2 linked regions of the Homo sapiens genome follow. The protein of the gene in region 1 purifies or fractionates together with the protein of each later gene. This does not show direct contact. Each region holds a gene or a part of one and is shown on either strand. Other genes may lie near its edges.

Region 1 (7,704 bases):
GAAAGCAGTGATTGTGCCACTGCAGTCTAGCCTGGGCCTCACTAGAGAGGGAGTGAGACCCTGTCTCAAAGAAAACAAAAACAGGCCTGACGCGGTGGCTCACGCCTGTAATCCCAGCACTTTGGGAGGCCGAGGTGGGCTGATCACGAGTTCAGGAGATCGAGACCATCCTGGCTAACACAGTGAAACCCCGTCTCTACTAAAAATACAAAAATTTAGCTGGGTGCAGTGATGGGCGCCTGTAGTCCCAGCTACTCAGGAGGCTGAGGCAGGAGAATGGCGTGAACCCAGGAGGCAGAGTTTGCAGTGAGCCAAGATTGCACCACTGCACTCCAGCCTGGGCGAGAGCGAAACTCCGTCTCAAAAATAAATAAATAAATAAATAATCTGCTTCGGGCATAGTGGCTCATACCTGTAACCACTCCAAAGGCTGAGGCGGGAGGATCACTTGAGCCTAGGAGTTCCAAGACCAGCCTGGGCAACATAAGGAGACCTGGTTTCTACAAAAAATTTTTTTACAAATTAGTTGGGCATGGTGGCGCACACCTATAGCCCCATTCACTTGTAAGGCTGAGGTGAGAGGATTGCTTAAGCCCTGGAGGTCAAGACTGCAATGAGCTGTGCTCCTGCCACTGCACTCCAGCCTGGGCAACAGAGCAAGACCCTGTCTCAAAAACTAAATTTTATATACATGTATATTTCCCCACTAGTCTATAAACTCCATGACTCAAGCAACTATGGCTGCCTTACTCACCAACAGCTTTCCAGTGCCTGGCCCTGTACCCGGCACACACTAAGTCCTCAAATACTGGCTAAATATGACATTTTCAGAGGCCCAATAGCACACTAGCTGTGATACTATCTTGTGTAGCATCAGACACACTGCTGATGAGGTAACACTCCAGTTATCTATTGGTGGAATGGGAATATTAGTCTTAGAAGGTTTTGTGAGAATTTAATAAAATATGACGCTTCTGCTAAAAAAAAAAAAGTAGCTATTATTTTCATCATTAGGTATATACCCCTCTAAGTCATTCTGGGTATTTTTTGTTTGGTTTTTTTTTGTTTTGTTTTGTTTTTGAGATGGAGCCTGGCTCTGTCCCCAGGCTAGAGTGCAATGGTAAGATCGTGGCTCACTGCAGCCTTGCCCTTCTGGCCTCAAGGGATCCTCCTGCCTCAGCCTCCTACATAGCTGGGACTACAGGCATGTGCCGCCAGGCCCAGCTAATAGACAGGGTCTCCCCGTGTTTTCCAGGCTGGTCTCAAACTCCTAGGCTCAAGCGATCTTCCGCCCTTGGCCTCCCAAAGTGCTGAGATTACAGGTGGGAGCTACTGCGCACAGTCATTCTGTACGTATTTTTGTAGAGTTGTAACCCCAACTTTGAATCTGGCTTTCCTGATAAGAGTATTTTTTCACATCTGATGGCTACATTTTGACATAAATAATCACAACTTACTTAACTATTCTTTACGGCTGGAAATTTAGAGGTTGTTTCTACTACTTGCTATTTATTAATATAAAATACCAAACTGGACTGGGCACAGTGGCTCATGCCTATAATCTCAGCATTTTGGGAGGCCAAGGCAAGAGGATCACTTGAGGCTAGGGAGTTTAAGACCACCCTGGGTGATACAGCAAGTGCCCCATCTCTACAAAAATTTTTAGATTAGCTGGGCATGGTGGTAAGTGCCTGTAGTCCCAGCTACTCAAGAGGCTGAGGTGGGAGGATCGCTTGAGCCCAAGATTTCAAGACTGCAGTGAGCTATGATCACACCACTGCACTCCAGCCTGGGCGACAGAGCCAGATCTGTCTCTTTAAAAACAACAACAACAACAAAACCCCACCAAACTGTACTGCTTTATGCAGTAACCTTTTCTCTACTTAGGTTTTATCCTAGTTATTTCCCAAACAAGGAGTCAGTAGGTCCAAGGGTGTAGACTCATTGCCAAACTGATTTCCAAAAGCTTCACATCTGCCTCCTCAAGGGGGTGACGAGTTTCCTAGTCCCTTCACTAGCCCTGGTGGTACTTTTCCTTGGAATATAATAAATTAAATTAAATTAAATTAAATTAAATTAAATTAAAAAAAAAAAAACAGAACAAAACCTTGACCCATTATAATGAGCTTTTCATGTATGAATCCTGCCCTCGGGATCTCGAGATCATTTGTCGGGACCTCAAGAGTTCCCAGGACTGAGGACCGTCCCTTCACTCCCCCACCCCCTGCCAGCCCACCCCGCAGAAGTCGGTGCGGGGGCGGTCTGTCCGGGAGCAGAGGGCGCCTGACGCTCCGGCCCTGCAGTCAAGGCAGGCAGCGGTGCAGGGTGATACACCGCAGCCAGGACGCAAACCCTCTTGCATCCTTAAAGAAAACAGACAGGTCCCAAGTTCAAATCTCTGACTTCAGCCTCATCGCTAAGTGCATGGACTCCGGAGCCCACCAAAACCGATCTCCCTAGAACCCCGGCACGGCCGTACCCCAGCTGGGTGCCCCCGGGCGACCCGCTTGGTGCCTCTGAGCCCCGGCTTGCCAGCCTGTAAAACAGGGGCGTGCAGTCGGGACACAGAGCTCCAAGGGGTGCTCGATAGGCCAGAGCAGCTAGTGGGGTGCCCCGGTAGGCAGCCAAGGGTCCTCGGCGAGCCCGCGGGCCCACGTGGCGCGCGCACGTGAGTGGGGTGACCGTGGTCGTAGGCCCAGCTGGTCCCTCTCCGCCGCGGACCCGCCCCCTCACCTCAGCTCTCCCTCCGCCCAGTCACCTGAGCCGGTGCCGCAGGCCGGGAGGGTCAGGCGCCGGCGAGGCCTGGCGGGGAAAGAGGTGTCCACATCCCCCGCTCGTTACCTTCCCTACCTCGGACCCTCGCCCGCTTCTCACCAGCTGGCGAGGCCACAGCCGCCCGCTCCGTCCGGTCAGTTCAGCGCCTGCGCACAGTGCCACAACTGCGGCCACCAGGTCCTCACCTCACCCAGGCGGTCCCTAGTCAGGACCCAGCTCCAGAAGGAAGCGCCCTCCCGCCAGCCCTGGTTGGCTCAATTGCGGAGGCGGGCCCTTGATGGACAGAGGTATTGCCCAATGGCTAAAGAGGATGAGAGGCGGGCAGAAAGGCGGGACCCGGGAGGGGGCAACACCGCCCCTTACCCCCTGCCTGGGTGCTGAAAGTGTTCGAGCGCGGGGCCACAGGACCAGGCAGTCACGTGCCTGAGATCGCCAGCTACGTGGCCGCTACACTCTGCATACCCCGAACCCAGCGGCCTCCCCAATTCCTCACCGTTGTTAGAACACCTCACTGCTTCCTCTCCACTTCGGTGTCGACCACTCCAGAACCCTCTCTTGAGCGCCACACCCTGATGTCCAGCCACCTGGACACCTGCCTCTGGAGGCCCCCAGGCGCCTCAAACATAACTTACCCCAAACTCAGCTTTCTGCCAAACTTGCTTTTTCTCTTCTCTCCTAACCCAGTAATGGCCCCACCATCTGCCCAGAGACCCAAGCCAAAACCCTGGGAGGCATCTTGACTCCTTCCTCTCCCTCACCCTCTCTTTCCAGTTATCTAATGCTGTAAATCCTATCTCCTAAATCTCTCTCCACTCATCCATCCGGCGACGCAGCCACCCTATTCCAAGCCTCTCACTTGATTTTACGGTTTTCCCTCCTCCACCTTTGACTTGGTCCTAACCACAGAGCAGAGCAGCCAGAATGACGCCCCTCCCACCTTTTCTCGTGGTTGGTGGGTAGAGACAAGGTCTTTCTATGTTGCCCAGGCTGGTCTCAAACTGCCGGGCTCAAGCAATCCTCCCACCTCAGCCTCCCCAAAGTGCTGGGATTACAGACGTGAGCCATCACGCCTGGCAGAATGACACTTCTAAAACTCAAATTCCAAGGCCGAGTGCGGTGGCTCCTGCCTGTAATCCCAGCACTTTGGGAGGCCGAGGCGGGGGGATCTCCTGAGGTCAGGAGTTTGAGACCAGCCTGGCCAACATCACGAAACCGTCTCTACTAAAAATACAAAAATTAGCTGGGAGTGGTGGTGCGCGCCTGTAGTCCCAGCTACCTGGGAGGCTGAGGCATGAGAATCATTTGAACCAGGGAGGTGGAAGTTGCACTGAGGTGAGATCATGCCACTGCACGCCAGCCTGGGAGACAGAGTGAGAGTCTGTCTCAAAAAAAACAAAAACAGAAACAAAAACAAACCAAAAAAACCCTCAAATTCCTGCCCTAAAGTCTTTTTTTTTTTTTTTTTTTTTTTTTTTTGAGACGGAGTCTCGCTCTGTCGCCCAGGCTGGAGTGCAGTGGCGGGATCTCGGCTCACTGCAAGCTCCGCCTCCCGGGTTCACGCCATTCCCCTGCCTCAGCCTCCCAAGTAGCTGGGACTACAGGCGCCCGCCACTACGCCCGGCTAATTTTTTGTATTTTTAGTAGAGACGGGGTTTCACCGTTTTAGCCGGGATGGTCTCGATCTCCTGACCTCGTGATCCGCCCGCCTCCGCCTCCCAAAGTGCTGGGATTACAGGCGTGAGCCACCGCGCCCGGCCTCCTGCCCTAAAGTCTTTAGTGGTTTCCCACAAACCATTAAGCTTTGAACTGACCATTATATTGGCCTGCTACTGACAATTAACTCAGCACGGCTGGCGGCTGGTAGGTTGAGAGAGACAGCGAACCCCGACACCAGATAATCCCTCCGTCCCTTCTGGTCCTAACATTGTGGCATTCCAGTGATGACCTGCTTCCTTATAAATTATTTTCACAGAACTCTTGTAACTATGGTAAGTCAGATGGAGTCCTTCCCTGGAGACAGAGAAAAATGGGAGACAACCAGAAAAAGCCACTTGGAGCCCTGAGAGTGTGGTTTTCCAGAAGGAAGACACCCTGGCTTACCTGGGCAGCCTGGCCAGCCTCCTGGACCCAAGGACGTGGTCACAATAAAACTGCTCATGTCAGACTTGCCCTTGTATATTTATAGTTCCACTCACCCTTAGCCCTTTCCAGAAGTTCAAAGTCAGGACTGGCAATATCTCTCTTCCTGCATATTAAGAGGACTGTTTCAGACCCAAACTAAAAAAAAGTCTAAGGGTTTCTAATAAATGAGTGCAAGAGAATGCAAAAGCACACTTCTTCCCTCCCCCCAGCAGACAGGTCATATAGGGTCACAACGGGTTACCCTTCCGGACAGAGGCAGCAGTGTTTAATTATTCAATCTGCAGGTGTTATGGGTGCCCACAATGTGTCAGGCCCTGGGCTGACTGCTGAGACACACAGATGGCGGCCCCCGCCACTTTCCTGAGAAAAATTACATCATTCCACCAAGCCTGAAACCACTGAGTTTTTCTAAGTTACCACACACACCCACTTCCAAAGTAAAAATGCACCCTGGAGGATTTTATGTGCATTGGAACTTTCATTTCAAGGCTATAACCAGTTCAGTCACCCTATATAGGATGGCCAGCCGAAGTCCCTCACCGGATCTCTCAAGGCTTCCTTGTCCCAAGGTCTTATAAGCAAATACGATGGAAAAGGATTACTTCTCTCTCCTTCGAGAAAGGGAAAGCATAGCTCGATTGGCAGGTTTTTTTTGTTTTTGTTTTTGTTTTTGTTTTGATATGGAGTCTCACTCTGTCACCCAGTCTGGAGGGCAATGGTGTGGTCTCGGCTCACTGCAACCTCCGCCTCCCGGGTTCAAGCGATTCTCCCGGCTCAGCCTCTCAAGTAGCTGGGACCACAGGCATGTGCCATCATACCCGGCTAATTTCTGTATTTTTAGTAGAGAGGGGGTTTCACTATGTTGGCCAGGTTGGTCTCAAACTCCTGACCTTGTGATCTGCCTGCCTTGGCCTCCCAAAGTGCTGGGATTACAGGCGTGAGCCACTGTGCCCAGCTGTTCAATTGGCATTTTTAGAGAAAAGATGTAAAAATATTCAGCCTCACTCAAAACCAAAGAAATGGCCAGGCACAGTGGCTCATGCCTGTAATCCCAACAATTTGGGAGGCCGAGGTAGGTAGATCACTTGAGCTCAGGAGTTCGAGACCAGCCTGGGCAACATGGTGAAACCCCCCCATCTCTACAAAAAATACAAAAATTAGGCTGGGGGCGGTGGCTCACGCCTGTAATCCCAGCACTTTGGGAGGCCAAGGTGGGCAGATCACTTGAGGTCGGGAGTTTGAGACCAGCCTGGCCAACATAGTGAAACCCTGTCTCTAATAAAAATACAAAAAATTAGCCAGGTGTAGTAGTTTGTGTCTGTAATCCCAGCTACAGGAGGCTGAGGCAGGAGAAGTGCTTGAACCTGGTAGGCAGAGGTTGCACTCCAGCCTGGGTGACAGAGTGAGACTCTGTCTCAAACAAACAAACAAACAAACAAACAAAACAAAAATTAGCTAGGCGTGGTGGTATGCATCTGTAGTCCCAGCTACTCAGGAGACTGAGGTGGGAGGATGGGAGGATGGCTTGAGCCTGGGAGGCAGAGGTTGCAGTGAGCCAAGATTGTGCCACTACACTCCACCTTGGGCAAAAGAGCCAGACCCTGTCTCAAAGTAATATTAATAATAATAATAAATAAAAGAAAAAGAAATGCTAATTAAATGAACCATTAATTTTTGTCAGTCAACCTGGTAAATATTAAAACAGGGTTTAAATACATAACATTGGCAAGAGAGCATTGCCATCTTAGCAGGGAGTGTGATATGGTTTGGCTCTTTGTCCCCACCCAAATCTCATTTCAAATTGTAATTCCCACTTGTCAAGGGAGGGATCTGGTGGGAGGTGATTGGATCATAAGGGCTGTTCCCTCATGCTGTTCTCATAATAGTGAGTGAGTTCCCACGAGATCTGATTTTGTTTTTTTTTTTTAACAGAGTCTCGCTCTGTTGCCCAGGCTGGAGTGCAGTGGCGCGATCTCAGCTCACTGCAAGCCCCGCCTCCCGGGTTCACGCCATTCTCCTGCCCAAGCCTCCCAAGTAGCTGGGACTACAGGTGCCCGCTACCATTCTCGGCTAATTTTTTGTATTTTTAGTAGAAACAGGATTTCACTGTGTTAGCCAGGATGGTCTGGATCTCCTGACCTCGTGGAGATCTGATTGTTTATAACAGACAGTTTCCCCTGTGCTCTTGCTTGCCTGCCGCCATTTAAAACGTGTCTTGCTTCCCCTTTGTCTTCTGCCATGATTGTAAGTTTCCTGAGGCCTCCCCAGCCATGCGGAAATGTGAGTCAATTAAACCTCTTTCCTTTATAAATTATGCAGTCTCAGGTATTCTTCATAGCAGTGTGAAAACTGACTAATACAGAGCATACATGGAGGCTACTCAATGGGCATACCTTTGATCCACTAATTCTACTTATTTCAATTTATCCTAAAGAGACAAAGGTGAACATTACAAATTTTTTACAGTAAATATACATTACTCCATCTAGCATAACTTGTATAATGAGGGGGGGAAAAGCAAAACTATTTTTATTTTATTTTTTATTTATTTATTCTTTTTTTGAGACAGAGTCTTGCTCTGCTGCCTAGGCTGGAGTGCAGTGGCACAATCTTGGCTCACTGCAACCTCTGCCTCCTGGGTTCAAGCAATTCTCCTGCCTCAGCCTCCCAAGTATCTGGGACTACAGGCACACGCTGCCACGCCTGGCTAATTTTTTTGTTTGTTTGTTTGTATTTTTAGTAGAGACGGGGTTTCACCACATTGCCCAGGCTGGTCTCGAACTCCTG
Region 2 (7,023 bases), on another chromosome or scaffold:
AAAAAAGAGGTCAAATAAAACAAGAGCCTCCTAGAAAGAAAATTAAAATATTTTACCTGCAAGAATATGTAGGCTCTCCTACTTTAAAAACACGACCACAAAGATGAGAAGGTTTGTTTGCTTGCTCAAGTTTTGGAAATCCAAATGCAGGATCTTCACCACAAAGGTACCATTCCATTGGTCCCAACAAAACATGCTGTGCCAGCATGTCTTCTTTCTGTGGAAAAGGGTTGGGACCCCTGCAGTAGATTTTGGGTACATAGTGGGCTAAATGCTGGTACACTTCTCTAGTGAGGTCAGTTGCTTGCAGCCATTTCTTTAAAAGAAGAAAAGAGAAGAAATGGTTTTAAACACCAACAAACTAATTTGAACAAATTCACCCTACTTTCTTTTAGGTACAAAAATAATGACAAAAGCATATTAAAATATTTTGTTTACAACACTCACCACCGTACGTTAGAAATTTAATCTATTAAAATGCCAAGTATGTTTAAATCCTACTTTTAAGTGTAAGTAAAATTAAAATGAAACAAGCCTCCCTCCTTCCCTGCAAAATGACTCTTGAAGCAATCTTCTCTAGGCAGTACCAGAAAATAATTACAAGAAATCATTATATAAGATATGAACCATTGAGCTCACCTAATGTCCTTCCTAATGCTTTGCTCAAATGTTATTCTCATTGTGATATCAATTCTCACGTCAGTTTGTCCATAGGAAGAGTGTACGGTGAATATGAACAGCCAATATGTACGGTGAACATGAACAGCCAATACACATTTCTTAATGATTGATAAGCAAGTTTATATACCAGTCTCTTATTGAATAAGTCAGTCCACAAGAGACTGTTGTACCAATTATGCCTTCTTTCTCTGATCAACTTCTCTCTCTCTATAAGGCCTTTTCCGTTTGCTCTCCCCACTAAAAACAAATTTTAAAGCATGATTCTACTTAGATCTCATAGGTACCAACTCAATAACTGAATGCATGATCTCCCCTCCATGCTCCACCAAAATCTGTTATTTTCTCCATTTCCAGCTCAACCTGGGTATCCACACCGAAAAATCTGAAAAGCTTCCCAGCACTTTGGGAGGCCAGGCCAAGCAGATCACCTGAGGTCAGGAGTTCAAGACCAGCCTGGCCAACATGGTGAAGTCTCTTCTCTACTAAAAATATAAAAATTAGCTGGATGTGGTGGCGCATGCCTGTAATCACAGTTACTCAAGAGGCTGAGGCAGGAGAAATCGCTTAAACCCAGGAGGCAGAGGTTGTAGTGAGCCAAGATCCAGCCTGGGCGACAGAGCAAGAGTCTGTCTCAAAGGACAAAAAAAAAAAAAGACTCACTTCTGCTAGAATGCAGTTAACTGAACCGTGAACAAAACCCACAGATGGAGGGAAAGAGGAAGGGGAAGTGAGTTGAAAAACTACCTATTGGGTACTATGCTCACTACCCAGGTGCAATATACTCATGTAACAAACCTGCACATGTATTCCTTAAATCTAAAGTAAAAGCTGAAATTAAAAAAAACCTCCAATGTTTACCTATGGATTACTACCTAATTCCAGTTACATTTTTATTTAAAAAAAAAAAAAAAGTATGTTCAAGTGATATGTAACATCATAAGAAGTCAACATAAGGTCTTCATTTTAGCTATTACTTGTATATTCTTCAGACCACTCCTTCTAAAAACAACATACAGAGAGATTTTAAATATGCATGAGGTGATGTATATTAACTTTCTAGTCAATTTCTGTTTTCAGAGAACTTTTACTAAAAATGTAAAAATTTTGTTCATAAGTTAAGGGACTGGATAGAAGCTTATAACCAAAAACGGTGAAAGAGTTTTCATGCTTAAAGTGAAACTAAACTATTTTCCAAATATTACTAACATTGTTGTGTTTACATTATGCAAGTAGGAAAGAGACTAAATTACTTTCAAAACAACAGCATTTCTTCCCTGGTGGCCAAGTGGTTAGGGAAAAAAAAATAAAAATAAAAATAAAACAGCAGCAGCAGCATCATTTCTTAGGAGACAATCCTACAGGCTTTAAGTATTCTCTCCCTTCAGAGTGACTCAATCAAAATTTTATATATACATACACATCCTTTAAGCTCAGTAATTATAAAGAGGACAAGTTTTAAAAAAAGAAAAAGAGTCCTCAACAAGCATACTAGAATCTTATTCTTTGAGCTAAAAGACCTCGTTTTGGCCTCATTCAAAGGTAAATGTCTCATTTTTCACCCATTGTCAGCAAACCAAAACAAGAATGAAGGTAGTCAAATGATCCTAAGCGCTTTTTTTTTTTTTTTTTTTTGAGTCTCGTGCTGTCGCCCAGGCTGGAGTGCAGTGGTACGATCTCGGCTCACTGCAACCTCTGCCTCCCAGGTTCAAGTGATTCTCCTGCCTCAGCCTCCTGAGTAGCTGGGGTTACAGGTGTGCACCACCACACGCGGCTAATTTTTGTATTTTTAGTAGAGACAAGGTTTCACTATGTTGACCAGGCTTGTCTCAAACTCCTGACATCAGGTGATCTGCCCACCTCGGCCTCCCAAAGGTGCTAGGATTCAATTTACTCTTTATGAAAGAAAAATTAAGCAATAAGACCAAAATAATTCACCTCCATGATCCTAGAAAGTTAAGTGCTTCGGACTTTTTTTTACAACATATTGAAAGATTTTATTTAAAAACCAGTTTTTTTCCTTATATTTTATGTTCCCATTCCTGTAAAACTTCACTGTTGCAAAATTTTAATACAAGAATGAAAGGTTACTTTAGAAGGGATGCTTTTTTTTTTTTTTTTTTTTTTTTGAGACGGAGTCTTGCTCTGTCACCCAGGCTGGAGTGCAGTGGCGCGATCTCGGCTCACTGAAAGCTCCGCCTCCCAGGTTCACGCCATTCTCCTGCCTCAGCCTCCCAAGTAGCTGGGACTACAGGCTAGCATGGATGCTTTCTAAAAAAAAATTATGCAGTCTAGTAACTGTAACGAGAGCAAATTTGTTCATAGATTTCTTCAACAAAAATTCAGACGCTAGTATCAGCTTCTGGTTAAGAAAAAAAAAAAAAATCGGCCAGGCTCTTTGGCTCATGCCTGTAATCCCAGCACTTGGGAGGCCAAGGCGGGTGGCTCATTTGAGTTCAGAGGTTCGAGTCTAGCTTGGGCAATATGGCAAAACCCTGTCTCTTCTAAAAATAAAAGAAGATTAGCTGGGCATGGTGGTGCATGCCTGTAGTCCCAGCTACTCAGGAGGCTGAGGTGGGAGGATCACCTGAGCCCCGGAGGTTGAGGCTTCAGTGAGGCATGATCACGCCACTGCACTTCAGCCTGGGTGACAGAGTGAGATCCTGTCTCAAAAAACAAACAAACAACAAAAAAAAAACTAGCCACTTTACATAAAAATATTATTAGTAAAACAAGCAAGTATTTCACTCTTTATTACATATTATTATAAATAACAAGACTTAAAAGTCTGGTCCAAGAAAGGCATGCATATGCTCCCCATTTTTCAAATCTTTACTACTCCTGGGCACAGTGGCTCACGCCTATAATCCCAGCACTTTGGGAGGCCAAGGTGGGCAGATCACTTGAGGCCAGGAGTTCGAGACCACCATGGCCAACATGGTGAAACCCCATCTCTACTAAAAATACAAAAATTAGCCAGGAGTGGTGGTGCACGCCTGTAATCCCAGCTACTTGGGAGGCTGAGGCAAAAGAATCGCTTGACCTCAGGAGGTGGAGGTTGCAGTGAGCCTAGATCACGCCACTGTACTCCAGCCTGGAGGACAGAGTGAGACTCCGTCTCAAAACCAAAAACTTTACTACCATTATATGAAAAAATCACAATCACCTAAAAGATTTGGGCTCTATTACAGGCACTTTAAGCTGATTAAACATACATACTTAATATAAAAAGCAAGAAAAATTTATGACTGTCTTTCAGAAGTAGCTCACACATTTCCCCAAAGAATAAAATCTATAGCTTTTCATATTAGTTCTAACATATGCTAACTGCAACTGTTTCTTCAACATGAAAAATTAAGATTTCCAGTTTGGTTGGCCTTTTGTCTTTATTTCAGACACTTGTAGCTGTCACACCCATGTGGCATAAGAGAGTAATAAGCATTCACTATCTTACTACAAGTCCCTCTTAAGGGAAGTAAAGAAACTGTCAACTCATTCCTCTAAAGTAAACATGTTATGACAATGTTTCCAGGAGCTTTCCCTCTATTAAATACTAAATTTAAGCCTTGGGATAGAAAGCAAGTACAATAAAATAAAAATGAAATGAAAAATGAAAGAATCCCTAGAGGTTAGTTAGCCTTTTATTACAGTCTCTATTATTCTATACCCAATTAAAATTGTATCCTTTAACTACTTTTGGTTTTGCTTTCAAACAAGGATAAGCAACATGTAAGTTAATCATAAAACAACTAGTGCTCATAACCATAAAAACAATAGTGTTTAAGTGGGAGTTTTAGGGAATATATTGAGAAAAATTTTAAACAAATTATATTAAGAGCTCTACAAATTAAGGAGAATATTTACAAATAAAATATAGAAATTTAATAGGTCAAAAGACTAATTGAAAATAGGCAAAGAAGACATAAAAATGGCCAATAAGCTCATAAAAAGATGTTCCAACATGACTCATGAGGGAAATGCAAATCAAAACCACAATGAGAAGGCATAACACCCAAAAGAATGGCTGTAATCAAAACACAGGCAAAAACAAGTGTTGGCAAGGATCTGGAGAAATTGGAACTCTCATGCACTACTGGTGGGAATGTAAAACAATGCAACTGCTTTGGAAAAATCTGGCAGTTCTTCAAAATAGTTAACATATGACCCACCAATTTCACTTCTAGGTATGTATATACCCAAGAGAAACAAAAGCATATGTCCCCACAAAAATTTGTAAAAAATGTTCACAGCAACATGATTCATAATACCCAAAAAGTAGAAACAACCCAAATATTCACCAACTGATGAACAGATAAATAATATATGGTTTATCTATACAAAGGAATGTCATTTGGCAATAAAAAAGAAAGAATTACTGACACAGGTTGAGCATCCCTAATTTGAAAACGTGAAATCCAAAATGATCCAAAATCTGAAACTTTGCATGCCCACACGATGCTCAAAGAAGTGCTCATTGGAACATTTGGATTTTGGATTAAGGATGCTCAACTGGTATAACTGCAAATATTTTAAAATCCAAAAAAATCCAAAATCCAAAACACTTCTGGTGGCAAGCGTAACAATACTCAACCTGTACATGGTACAACATGGATAAATATTTTATTTTTATTATTTTTTTTTTGAGACAGAGTCTCGCTCTGTTGCCCAGGCTGGAGTGCAGTGGCGCGATCTTGACTCACTGCAAGCTCCGCCTCCCGGGTTCATGCCATTCTCCTGCCTCAGCCTCCCAAGTAGCTGGGACCACAGGCGCCTGCCACCACGCCCGGCTAATTTTTTGTATTTTTTAGTAGAGACGGAGTTTCACCGTGTTAGCCAGGATGGTCTCGATCTCCTGACCTTGTGATCTACCTGCCTTGGCCTCCCAAAGTGCTGGAATTACAGGTGTGAGCCACCGCGCCTGGCCCAACATGGATAAATATTTAAAACATTATCTAAGAGAAAGAAGTCAGCCACAAATGACAATATGTTGAATTCCATTTATACGAAATATCCAGAATAGGCAAATCTACACAGACAAAAATTAGTAGTTGATTAGACCTCAGGAGTTTAGGTGTGAAAGGGAAGTGACTGCCAATAGGTACAGGATTTCTTTTTTGGGGTGATAAAAATGTCCCAAAATTGATCATAGTGATGATTGCATGAATCTGAATATACTAAAAACCACTGAATTTAACTGTACAGTATGTGAGTTATATCTCAATAAAACGGTTTAAAAAATGTACAGCAAAAAGATAACCAATACAGACCTAAAACTCTACATAAAACTTAACAAATTCATTATTTATTAAAACAAAATTTTTTTTGAAGACAGGGTCTCACTGTATCACCCAAGATGGAGTACAGTGGCATGATCATAGCTCACTGTAACTTCTAACACCTGGGCTCAAGCGATCCTCCCTGCTTAGCCTTCTGAGTAGCTAGGACTGCAAGTTCATGCCACCACACCCAGCTTATTTATTTTATTTTATTTTTTTTTAGTAGAGACAGGGTATAGCTAATGTTGCCCAGGCTGGTCTCAAACTCTTAGACTTAAGCAGTCCTCCCACCTCAGCCTCCCAAATAGCTGGGATTACTGGCATGAGCCAGTGCTCCCAACCTGTATTTCTTTTATATTCAGGGAAAAAGATGGGGTCCCGCTCTGTCACCCAGGCTGGAGTGCAGTGGCGCGATCTCGGCTCACTGCAACCCCAGCCTCCTGGGTTCAAGCAACTCTCCTGCCTCAGCCTCCCGAATAGCTGGGATTACAGGGGTGCACCACCATGCCCGGTTAATTTTTGTATTTTTAGTAGAGACAGGGTTTCACCATGTTGGCCAGGATGGTCTCTATCTCTTGACCTTGTGATCTGCCCTCCTTGGCCTCCCAAAGTGCTGGGATTACAGGCAAGAGCCACCACACCCGGCATGTTTACTTTTAAAACCGTAATCACTCACTGGAACATACTATAACCATATGTAGTATAGAAAGTAAACAGAGCCAAGAAGTGTTGGGAAAGTCATACTTATGGAGTCAATTCTAACAAGAAAAGAGAAGAATGAGAAGAGAGGGCCACTGTAATATCCTAAACTTACAAATATTAAAGAGTCAGCTTAGATACTTTTCTTTGTGAGGCATACTAGCTGGAATGGATGGGATCACAAAAAGTTCTTCCTCCTTATAACAGGAATAAGAAAAGCGGTGTGTAAATGAAATGTGGAAAGGTTGACACTAGTGCTCATTAGGTGATTTTTAAATGGAAGTGATCCTAACAAATTACCAATGACAGAGGTCTAAAGCCTACAATCACTGTTTTCTCTACTTGTTTCTCTTCCCTAAAATGTGCTTTC

What was found. The genes of interacting proteins can lie anywhere in the genome.
Region 2: the proteins of PDP2 (region 1) and UBR2 purify together in Homo sapiens (affinity purification with mass spectrometry; 2 studies listed by BioGRID and IntAct, with this or other methods). This does not show direct contact.

What each region holds. Positions count from the first base shown.
Region 1 is NC_000016.10:66,875,811-66,883,514, reverse strand, and holds the start of PDP2 ([Pyruvate dehydrogenase [acetyl-transferring]]-phosphatase 2, mitochondrial precursor), read right to left. Parts: upstream 3,001-7,704; 5' UTR 2,875-3,000; exon of another isoform or gene 2,734-2,874; intron 501-2,733; exon of another isoform or gene 413-500; intron 1-412. UniProt on the Homo sapiens protein: Mitochondrial enzyme that catalyzes the dephosphorylation and concomitant reactivation of the alpha subunit of the E1 component of the pyruvate dehydrogenase complex (PDC), thereby stimulating the conversion of pyruvate into acetyl-CoA.
Region 2 is NC_000006.12:42,567,027-42,574,049, reverse strand, and holds part of UBR2 (E3 ubiquitin-protein ligase UBR2), read right to left. Parts: intron 317-7,023; coding exon 57-316; intron 1-56. UniProt on the Homo sapiens protein: E3 ubiquitin-protein ligase which is a component of the N-end rule pathway.